Linked DNA regions of Homo sapiens. The protein of the gene in region 2 purifies or fractionates together with the protein of the main gene of each other region. This does not show direct contact. Each region holds a gene or a part of one and is shown on either strand. Other genes may lie near its edges.

Region 1 (3,650 bases), on a different chromosome or scaffold from region 2:
ACAAGACTTTGAAGGGATCTTTCTATTTTTAGACCTAACTTTCACTCATATTTCCAGAGCTATGAGGTGTCACCAATCCCTAAGACTTTTAAGGGTAATATAGAGAAAATTGGCTTTTTTTTTTTCCACTGTTGGCCTAGGATTCAACTTTCTTTGGTCTGTTAAAACAGCATTGCTTTGTATATCTGTTTTCCAGCTTCTAACACTTCTGTCCTTCTCTTTTTTCTAGTGTTTTATGTCTTTCTCTCTTTAAAAAAAAAAAAAATCTCTTGCTGGGAATGGTGGCTCATGCACGTAATCCCAGCATTTTGGGAGGCCGAGGCAGGTGGATCACGAGTTCAGGAGTTTGAGACCAGCCTGACCAACATGGTGAAACCCTGTCTCTACTGAAAATATAAAAATTAGTAGGGCATGGTGGTGCATGCCTGTAATCCCAGCTACTCAGGAGGCTGAGGCAGGAGAATCACTTGAACCTGAGTGGCAGAGGTTGCAGTGAGCCAAGATGGTGCCAGTGTACTCCAGTCTGGGCGACAGAGTGAGACTCTATCTCAAAAGAAAAAAAAAATCTCTTAACTATAATCTTAGTGTGATGTGGGCTGGGATTAGAGGCTACATTAAGCCCCATCTTTAACCAGAAATCTCAGGCATGAGATGGTCTCATTGTACTAGGTGATATCCAGAACTGATTTCATTTCTTCAAGGTTTGAGTTCACTTTTTAAATATTTATTTTGCTTTCCTAGGTGCCGACCTTTACAATTTCAGCCTTCAAAATCTCACAAGAAGGTTTTGAAAAAAATGTTGAAATTTCTAGCTAAAGGGGAGGTTCCCAAAGGAAGTTGTGAGGGTAAGATGGGCTGGGTCTAAAAACGATTTACTATCTGTCTTTGCAACGGTCCCACTTTCAGTCATCTTGGGAAGGGGAAGGGTCATTAATACAGTCATGTACTGCTACTACTATGATGACAGCGACTACTGTTAGCACTGCTATTACTGTTACCATCGGCCCCCAAGTCAAGGCATGGGAATATATATCAGAAGAGTTTAGCGTGGAAAGAATATTGAGGATCATGTTAAATTTGTGATTTCTTGGAGTTTATCAAAATATCTGTTTCCAGAATGCTTTGATAACTCATCTTTCTTGATCCTAATACTATCCTTATGAAGTAAATAGAAAGTGCCATTGTCTCTCAAGAAGCAAGTGCTTACATGCAGCTTGGACAAGATTGCCCTATTCCTTTTAATGCTGAATAAAGATCAGCTTTTCTGTGTTTGAATAAGGCTTTACTTCAGTAAATTATACTGTTTGAAATCCTCTTATTTGTGTGATCAGTTTTGAATTGTGAGTGGCTTTGCTAAAACATAATAGCATTTATTTAACTTTAGTTACACATGATTTGCTTTTTTTCTTAGTCTTTTTACTAATTTTGGTTTTATTTCTTTAAATTTTCATATTGGGGCCGGGGGCAGTGGCTCACGCCTGTAATCCCAGCACCTTGGGAGGCCGAGGCAGGCGGATCATGAGGTCAGGAGATGGAGACCATTCTGGTTAACATGGTGAAACCCTGTCTCTACTAAAAATACAAAAAATTAGCCTGGCGTGGTGGCAGGCGCCTGTAGTCCCAGCTACTTGGGAGGTTGAGGCAGGAGAATCGCTTGAACCTGGGAGGCAGAGGTTGCAGTGAGCCGACATTGTGCCACTGCACTCCAGCGTGGGTGACAGAGCAACAAAAAATTGGCCGAGCTTCGTGGTGCACGCCCGTAGTCCCAGCTACTCGGAGGCTGAGGCACAAGAATCAGGGAGGTCAAGGCTGCAGTGAGCCAAGATCCTGCCACTGCACTCCAGCCTAGGTGACAGAGCAAGACTCTGTCTCCACCAAAAAAAAAAAAAGGAATTAGGTTCTGAGTTAGAAAAATGAACATGGAGATAAGCATTGAAGATGCTGTCCATTTGTAAATTGGTGGTTGCCTTTCTTTTATTTTTGGAGACGGAGTCTTGCTCTGTCGCCCGGGCTGGAGTGCAGTGGCTCAATCTTGGCTCACTGCAACCTCCACCTCCCGGGTTCAAGGCATTCTGTTGTCTCCGCCTCCCGAGTAGCTGGGACCACAGGCACCCGCCACCACATCTGGCTAATTTTTTTGTATTTTTAGTAGAAACGGGGTTTCACTGTGTTGGCCAGGCTGGTCTCAAACTCTTGACCTTGTGACCTGCCCGCCTTGGCCTCCCAAAGTGCTGGGATTACAGGTGTGAGCCACCACATCTGGCTGCCTCTCTTTCTTTTGTAGTGTTTATATTTGGTTGTTTATTTGACTTGTTACAGGCTTCTGAATTATCTGTGCCTGGAACTAGGAGTGATGTACTCATTAGAGTAAAGGAATAAACAGCTATGACAAAAAGATACCAAAATGCAATAACTAAAAGAAAGATAAAAGTCTGTTTCTTTCGGGGCCGGGTGTGGTGGCTCACACCTGTAGTCCCAGCACTTTGAGAGGCCAACACAGGCGGATCACGAGGTCAGGAGATCAAGACCATCCTGGCTTACACGGTGAAACCCTGTCTTCTCTAAAATTACAAAAAATTAGCCGGGCTTGGCCGGGCATGGTGGTTCACGCCTGTAATCCCAGCACTTTGGGAGGCCGAGGCAGGTGGATCACGAGGTCAGGAGATCGAGACCATCCCGGCTAACACAGTGAAATCCCGTCTGTATTAAAAATGCAAAAAATTAACTGGGCATGGTGGTGGGCGCCTGTGGTCCCAGCTACTTGGGAGGCTGAGGCAGGAGAATGGCGTGAACTTGGGAGGCGGAGCTTGCAGTGAGCCGAGGTCGCGCCCCTGCACTGCAGCCTGGGCGACAGAGGGAGACTCCTCAAAAAAAAAAAAGTCTGTTTCTTTCCTCACATAACAGTTCAGTGTGGGTGTTCTAGGTTGGCGTTCAACTCTTCTCCCCACCAGCCATTCTGGGCTTTTCTTTAACATGTGATTTCCCAGGTTGCTCTGGTTTTTACTAATCCAGCCATTGTGGGGAAGGGTAGAAGTTCAGGGTCGCAAGTTTCCTTTAAAACTAGTGAGGCATAATTGGATGTATCAGTTGTGTTATGTTCTGTTGGCAGGAGCTTGGTCACCACTTGTAAAGGGACTGGCAGTACATTGCCCTGCTAGGGCGCCACAGTTTTTGTTTTTTTTTTTTTTTTTTAATTTACTGTAGAGATAGTGTCTCACTATGTTGCCCAGGCAGGTCTTAAACTCCTGGCCTCAAGCAGTCCTCCTGTGTTGGCCTCCCAAAGAGCTGGAATTACAGGCATGAACCACCATGCCCAGCTGTGCCAGTCTTAAGTGCAGCTCTCTTATTTTGGAGGATGAGAATGGATTTGGTGGACAGATAGTAATTCTGCCACAATGGATAATAGGAACATTGTATTTCTGTATTTACCTAACTGTATCAAATAACCCAGCTGATGGATTTTTAATTTCTTCTGATTTGTAGATGAGCCCATGGATTCCACAATGGATGATGCTGTTGCGGGTGACTTTGCATTGATAAATAAACTGGATATACAGTGTGATCTTAAAACACTCAGTGATGACATCAAAGAGAGTTTAGAGAGTGAAGGAAAAAATTCAAAGAAAGAAGAACCTCAGGAATTACTTCAG
Region 2 (3,750 bases):
CCCAGCACTTTGGGAGGCCGAGGTGGGTGGATCATGAAGTCAGGAGATTCAGACCATCCTGGCCAACATGGTGAAACCCCGTTTCTACTAAAAATACTAAAAAAATTAGCTGGGTGCAGTGGCGTGCACCTGTAGTCCCAGGTACTAGGGAGGCTGAGGCAGGAAAATCACTTGAACCCGGGAGGCAGAGATTGCAGGGAGCCGAGATCGCGCCACTGCACTCCAGTCTGCCTCTCAAAAACAAAAAACAGACATAATGATCAAGTTATTTCCCCTGCAACCCTGCTGAAAAAAACCTGAATAGCTTCTACCAAGCACTCAGATTAAAGTCCCAAATCCGGCCGGGTGTGGTGGCTCATGCCTGCAATCCCAGCACTTTGGGAGGCCGAGGCGGGCAGATCACAAGGTCAGGAGTTCCAGACCAGCCTGGCCAAGATGGCGAAACCCCATCTCTACTAAAAATACAAAAATTAGCCAGGTGCGCTGGCGTGCGCTGGTAGTCCAGCTACTCCGGAGGCTGAGACAGGAGAATCGCTTGAACCCAGGAGGCGGAGGTTGCAGTGAGCTGAGATCGAGCCATTGCACTCCAGCCTGGGTGACCTGGGTGACAGAGTGAGACTCTGTCTCAATAAATAAATAAATAAATAGGTCCCCAATCCTCACCTGTTCTCGCCTACCTCTTCCCACACTCGCAGTCTACTCCACATTCAATATTCTTTAGCGCTCCCCATTCTGGCCATGCCAAGACCTCACCCCTTGGAGCAACTAACTCCTCCCAACTCAATTCCTCAGATTCTACCCTCTTCATCCTCAACTAAATCAATTCCCCCATAAAGATTCTCTTAGTACCATATACCTCTCAGAAGATTTTTACTAATTGAAAACTTAATTTTGTCTGATTCTCCCATGAATGTTTTCCTTCTCCACCAGATCTCAAACTTCATGAGACCAGGGACTCCGTTGACCCCATATGGTACTCCCAGCTCCTTGAACACGGAAGAAGCCTCATTACATAAGTAATAAAAATAAAATAAATTAGGAAAATGGGAATTATAAAGGGATGGGCTGGTGGCTGCTTACAATCCCTTCAGTGGTAATACCTGGTGCAAAGTAATGAGTCTCTGCCCTTTTCCAAGCAGCCTGCTAGGTGGAATGAAGGAAGGCCTTGCGACTCAAATAGGGAGAACAAACGTGTGATCCAGAGCGGCGGGCAGAAATCCGACGAAACCCCATATTACTCAGGGGCGTTGCTCCTAGGGCGAGGGTGGCTCGGTTCCTAGAGCTTTTTGAGAGGAGGAGCTTACCTGGAGCAACTCAGCACTACCTGCAGCGGCGCAGCTCAACCAGCCCAGAGACCGCGTGGGAAGGCGGGCTAGGGGAGGGGCCACGCCTTCCAGGGCCCATCCCCGCCCCTGCGGCGTGCGCGCGCCCGTCCGCCCGCTCCCTTGCGCGTGCGCCGCCGGCCGGGGGCGGAGGTTGTGGGCGGTGGCGGCTGTGGCGGGGGCGCGCGCGCGCTCGCTCTCTCGCGCCGGTTCGCCCTCCCGCGCCGGGGCTGAGGCGGCGGCGGCGGTGGCGGTGACTGAGGCGGCGGCGGCTGAGGCGGCGCGGGGGGAGGGTCGGGAGGGGGGGGTGGTTGTGGGGGATGGACCGGGTGCGGCGGCCGCAGTGGAAGGAGCAGGCGCTTGAGCTCGAGCGACGGCGCTGGCGGAGACGCCGGCTGCTCCTCCCCTCCCCGCCGGTGAGTGAGCGCCCCCGCCCCGGACGCTGGCGGCGGTCGCGGCCCCCTCACGGCCCTCCGCGGTGGGTGGGGACAGTCGTGAGGGAGCGTGGCCTGGCGGCGCAGCGGACGCGGGCCTGGCCTCCCGCTCGCGGCCTGTCGGGGCTGGGACCTGCCGTCGCCCCCGTTCGAGGTTGAAGCCCCGGGCCTAGGACTCGACCCCCAGCATCCCACGGGGCCTCTTTCCTTTCCCGGCTCATTCCGCTGTCATTTTGACCTGGGGTTCCCCTCCAGCCCCTCGCCTCGTTCCCTTCCCAGCATCCCAGGGCCGAGGTGAGGGAGGGGCGTGTGAGAAGTCGGGCCGAGGCCCGAGGGACTGTTTAGGAGCCGGTTCCCGTCGGAATCTGGGGTTTTAGGAGCCCTCGATCGCCATGGCGTCCCAGAAGTTAGCCACCAGGACTCAGCCATTTCCACCTGAAACCAGTTTTGCACCTATTGTTTTGATTTTGAACTGTCTTTCGAGGGGAGGAGGGAGCCCGGCGTACTGGGGAGAATATGTAGTGGGAGGTGGGATGTGAGGAGGAGCTGGCTGGGCTTGGTCTCGGCCTCAGGATGCCCCCTGTTAACCCCTGTAGGATAGGGGAAAGAGGTGCAGCGAGTTGCACCTTCCCTAAAGGGCCAGAGATTCGTTTATAGCTTGCGAATCTCTGCTTTTTCAGCCTCGGTAAAGGGGTATCATTTGTGGTTGGTTTGGTTCGTCCCTTAACAACATTCTTGGTGAGGAATCCCCAGGTGAATCTGCCACGGAGTGAAGCAGCCCACTTGAGCTGTTGGCTACCCCCGGCCCCCGCAACGCCCGTTGGCTTTTGTGACACGTTACACGTTAGTGTTGGTAGAGCCTAGCCGTCAGAGGTACCTGTACCATAAGCATCTCTACGAAAGGTGTGAATTCCTAAATTAGCTTATTCTGTTCTTAAAAAAAAAAAATCCAGGGCATAAATATCAGATAGCTGCTTTAAAATAAAACAAAACTTTGATTTGTTCCAGGAGGTAGATACATTTTTTTCTCTGTATATTAGGAGATTGAAACTCAAATTGTGAGTAGGTGGTAGTTTTACTAGTGTCATGTGACAAAACGATGCTTATAGATGGGATTTTAACTTAATAACCCTGTCCTCTACCAACAGAGTTGGCTTGTATTTTTTTGCAATCACCCACTCTCTGGCTAGTGTAGAAAGATTAAAAAGCTGCTTCTGGTCTGTGGGTGGTAACCTTTTAATTTCTGAAGAGTTTTGAGCTGCTTATAGATTGCTGATCAGCAGCATAGGAAAATTTTAGACGTTAAAAATTCATTAGCATGTGATGTAGAACTGTTATAATTATGAGCATTGATTAAGATTTGGTATGGTGTAGGTGCTGTGTACTGTGTATAAGAATGAGATTTCTCAGAGCATTTGCATCTTAAGATAAACAGAAGCACAGACCGCTGACAGTGTTGGGACACCTTGCAGAAGGACTCTTTTATGAGCACAAAAGACCTGTAGTCTACAATTTGATGAAGAACCCCAGTGCCCTAGACTAGTTGGTGACCAACCACCATTACTTTAAACTGGGCCTTCTTGATAGTAGAATATTTCCCCTTTTCTGCAAGACTGCTTATGCCTCTCATAAATGTGCAGAACATATAATGGCTCAGGGCTTAGGTTTAAGCTCCTCAGAGTGGCATTTATGGATCATTCATTAATTCATCAAATGTTTATTGAGCCCTTACTTTGTTCCAGGATGTTTTCTAAGTACTGGGCTACATTGTTGGGACAAAACAGACAAGGCCTCTTCCCTAATTAAGCTTTATTCTGTATGTATGGGAATGAGGAATATACAACAAACAAGCAAATAGGATCATTTCAGATAATGATATAAATCAGTGGTTAGTAAGCTTTTTTTGGTAAAGGACCAGGAAGTACAGTACATACCAGGGTTTTTGGGCCATATGATCTCTTTTGCAACTACTCAATTCTGTTTTAGTACAAAAG
Region 3 (3,650 bases), on a different chromosome or scaffold from region 2:
GTTTTCAAGCAATGGTGGATTTTGTCAGTAAAAAAGAGAAATCAACTGAAAAATGGGAGGCCCAGGCTCTGTTCCTTGTTCTGATACATACTAGCAGCATAACAGTGGTTATGCCTAACTCGTCTCCACAGCTGGTAAATGAAAGTGCTAATTTCCCTGGTCCGGCCTGAATCTAAAATTCTATGATTTTCATAATTTTAAATTATTAAATTATTAATAATTTAATATTTTAAATTATTACAGGCATTTAGCTCACGCTTATAATCCCAGCACTTTGGGAGGCCAAGGTGGGAGGATCACTTGAGGCCAGGAGTTCAAGACCAGCCTGGGCAACATAAGGAGACCTTTGTCTCCACAAAATAAAAATAAAAATTAGCTGGGTGTGGTGGCTTACACCTATACTCCCAGTTACTTGGGAGGCTGAGGTGGGAGGGTCCCTTGAGCCCAGGAGGTCAAGACTGCAGTGAGCCGTGATCACGCCACTGCACTCCAAGCCCTGGAGACATAGTGAGACCCTGTCTCAAAAATAAAATAAAATAAATTTAAATAGCAAATTACCTAGGACCTGGCAATGTTCAATTAACATCTACAGGCTGATTTGTTGATTTATGGTCAGTAAGAAAATCAAAGTGAGAAAAATAAAAGACTATCCAGCACTATCTGTTCTTATTGCTTCAAAGAAGAAGGCTTTAGAAATGTACATACTTACTCTTAATCGAGGACACTTGGACTTGGCCAGTACTCCCATGAATATATCAGGAGCATTAAATTCTTGGAGAAATAAAGCCACGTCCTGAAAAGAAAAATGATTATTAACTTGGATGTTGAATATTCCTCCCTAAACCCTAAAGCTCAGGCAACCATAAAATTCTATATTAAAATTAGAATTTTACGCCAGGCGCAGTGGCTGACACCTGTAATCCTAGCACATTGGGAGGCCAAGGCTGGCAGATTGCCTGAGCTCAGGAGTTCAAGACCAGCTGGGCAACACGGTGAAACCCTGTCTCTACTAAAAATACAAAAAAATTAGCCGGGCATGGCGGCATGCACCTGTAGTCCCAGCTACTCAGGAGGCTGAGGCAGGCGAATCGCTAGAACCCGGGAGGCAGAGGTTGCAGTGAGCTGAGATCACGCCACTGCACTCCAGCCTGGGTGACAGAGCGAGACTCTGTCTCCAAAAAAAATAAAAAAATAAAATAAAATTAGAATTTTAGACACAAGAAAAAAAAAACACAGGCTTAGGAACTGTGTCAACAGACAAAAGTGATGTTAGAGAGTCTTTATGGTAACTAGTCCCAGACAATGGAACAATTTCATAAACAAATCTAAACTACCTACAATACTCCAGAGGATTATCCCACTCTTTTCTGCCCGAATCTATTTACCTTAATAATTTTTCTGCCCACTAGGAATTCTCATTAAACACATTCAAACACATTTGGTGATTACCTATCAGGTATTAAACTAGAAGCGGGGGACAAGGGAAAAAAGCAACACGCTGGGCGCAGTGGTTCACACCTGTAATCCTAACACTTTGGGAGGCTGGTTAGAAGGCCGAGGTGGGTGGATTACTTGAGCCCAGCTTGGGCAAACATAGTGAAAACCCATATCCACAAAAAATACGAAAATTAGCCAGGTGTGGTGGCACATGCCTGCAGTCCCAGCTACTTGGGAGGTTGAGGTGGGAGGATCACTTGAGCCTGGGGAGCTCAAGGTTGCAGTGAGCCATGACTTTGCCACTGTACTCCAGCCTGGGCAACACAGCGAGAAAAAAAGGAAAAAAAAAAAAAAGGTAAAACTTGGCTGGGCGAGGTGGCTCACGCCTGTAATCCTAACACTTTGGGAGGCCAGGACAGGCGGATCACTTGAGCCCAGGAGTTCGAGACCAGCCTAGGCAAACATAGTGAAACGCCATCTCTACAAACAATACAAAAATTAGCTGGGCATGGTGGTGTACCATCTGTAGTCCCACCTACTCAGGAGGCTGAGGTGGAAGGATTGCTTGAACCCGTGAGGCAGAGGGTGCAGTGAGCTGAGATCTCGCCACTGCACTCTAGCCTGGGCGACAGAGTGAGACTTTGTCTCAAACAAAAACAAAATTCCTTCTTGTCCTCCAAGAGCTTAAAACACGGTAGGGGAAAGAAGTCAAGAACTGCTATTGGGTCCTGTCCAAAACCAGAATTTGTGTTTTCAAAATCATCAATAGAATAAAAATTCTGATCACAATGTAACTGTGGCAGCCTCATAACTTCTTCCTACAGAGTCTGCCACAGTGCCTAAAGGGGCGTAACACACAGGTGACATGTGAGTGGACATGTGGCCCCAAATGAGCCAAATCTCACCTAGGAATGTAAGACACAAAAGCTAAGTCAGTTTGCTTGGGGACCTGCAATGTAAAATATATAAATAAAATTAAGTCTCTGGCTGTCCACTGCTTCAGATTTTCACTAAATGTGAGGTGTGTATTTGAGAAGCCTTAACTTAAAATATAAGCTGCATGGCTTATGTGAAAATTAAGGGCCCTGGAACATCTCAAAGAGACAGGCAATTATTCTCCACAGCAAGTGAAACCAGTAACCTGCCAGACAACTGACTGAGAGAGACACACTCTACTTACTAAAGGACCATGGTCAGAGAAAATAGTATTTTCAAAGATACACTCTAAACTGAAAGTCATAATGGCAGATTCTCTTCACTGTAAGTGATCAAGCTGTCCTGTGGGCAATTCTTTGCCACATGCAGAAATTTTTAAATTTAATGGTAATTCCTGGAGTAGCACAAGGGTGGCCTAACAATATCAACACCAACAGTAATAAAATTAACATTCATTGAACAAGTATTAAATGCCAGGCACAGTGAAGTGGCTTGCATGCTATCTCATTTAATTCTCAAAACAACTCTATCAACTAGTTATCATTGTTAGCCCCATTACACTCATAAGCAAACTGAAGTTTAAAAAGTGTAGCAACCTGCCCAAGATTATACAGTCTCAGCAGAGCAAAGCTAGGATTTGAACCCATGAGTCTGATTTGAGCCTATGGTCTTGTTTTTTAAAAGAGATGGGGGTCTTGCTATCCTGTCCATACTGGAGCAGTGGCTATTCACAGATTCACAGGCATTATCATAGCTCACTGCAGCCTCCAACTACTGGGCTCAAGTGATCCTCCTGCCTCAGCCTCCCAAATAGCTGGGAATACAGGCAAGTACCCAGCGAGACTATGTTCTTAACCAGCACAACATGCTACCTCTCAGGTATTCATCTATTCATTCATTACTCCCCAAATATTTTCTGAAAAACCTAATAGGCACTGTTTTAGGTTCTGGGGATACATCAGTGAACAAGCTAAATAAGGGCTCAGTCCCATGGAATTTTCATTCTAAAGAAATGAACAAACAATAAATATAAAACAACTAAACTACACAATTTCTAAATGCTACAAAGAAAATAAGATATGTGCTAGAAACCAAGATAAAGCGGGCTACTTTAGACATGACATTGAAAAGAAGGCATTTCAGAAGGGGTGACATTATGCTTTGATGAGAAGGAATTTAAATCCATCAGAGGACACATGTAACAGAGTGAAGCAATTCTGTGGGAACACCAAAACAAGACAGGTTAATTCTGACTGGAGTGTCTGGGGTGGCATCAC

Evidence for each region.
Region 1: the proteins of TMCC1 (region 2) and ATE1 purify together in Homo sapiens (co-immunoprecipitation; one large-scale study listed by IntAct). This does not show direct contact.
Region 3: the proteins of TMCC1 (region 2) and SAAL1 purify together in Homo sapiens (co-immunoprecipitation; one large-scale study listed by IntAct). This does not show direct contact.

What each region holds. Positions count from the first base shown.
Region 1 is NC_000010.11:121,910,985-121,914,634, reverse strand, and holds part of ATE1 (arginyl-tRNA--protein transferase 1), read left to right. Parts: intron 1-741; coding exon 742-845; intron 846-3,483; coding exon 3,484-3,650. UniProt on the Homo sapiens protein: Involved in the post-translational conjugation of arginine to the N-terminal aspartate or glutamate of a protein. This arginylation is required for degradation of the protein via the ubiquitin pathway. Does not arginylate cysteine residues.
Region 2 is NC_000003.12:129,891,482-129,895,231, reverse strand, and holds the start of TMCC1 (transmembrane and coiled-coil domains protein 1), read left to right. Parts: upstream 1-1,520; 5' UTR 1,521-1,738; exon of another isoform or gene 1,739-2,050; intron 2,051-3,750. UniProt on the Homo sapiens protein: Endoplasmic reticulum membrane protein that promotes endoplasmic reticulum-associated endosome fission.
Region 3 is NC_000011.10:18,096,062-18,099,711, forward strand, and holds part of SAAL1 (protein SAAL1), read right to left. Parts: intron 794-3,650; coding exon 710-793; intron 1-709. UniProt on the Homo sapiens protein: Plays a role in promoting the proliferation of synovial fibroblasts in response to pro-inflammatory stimuli.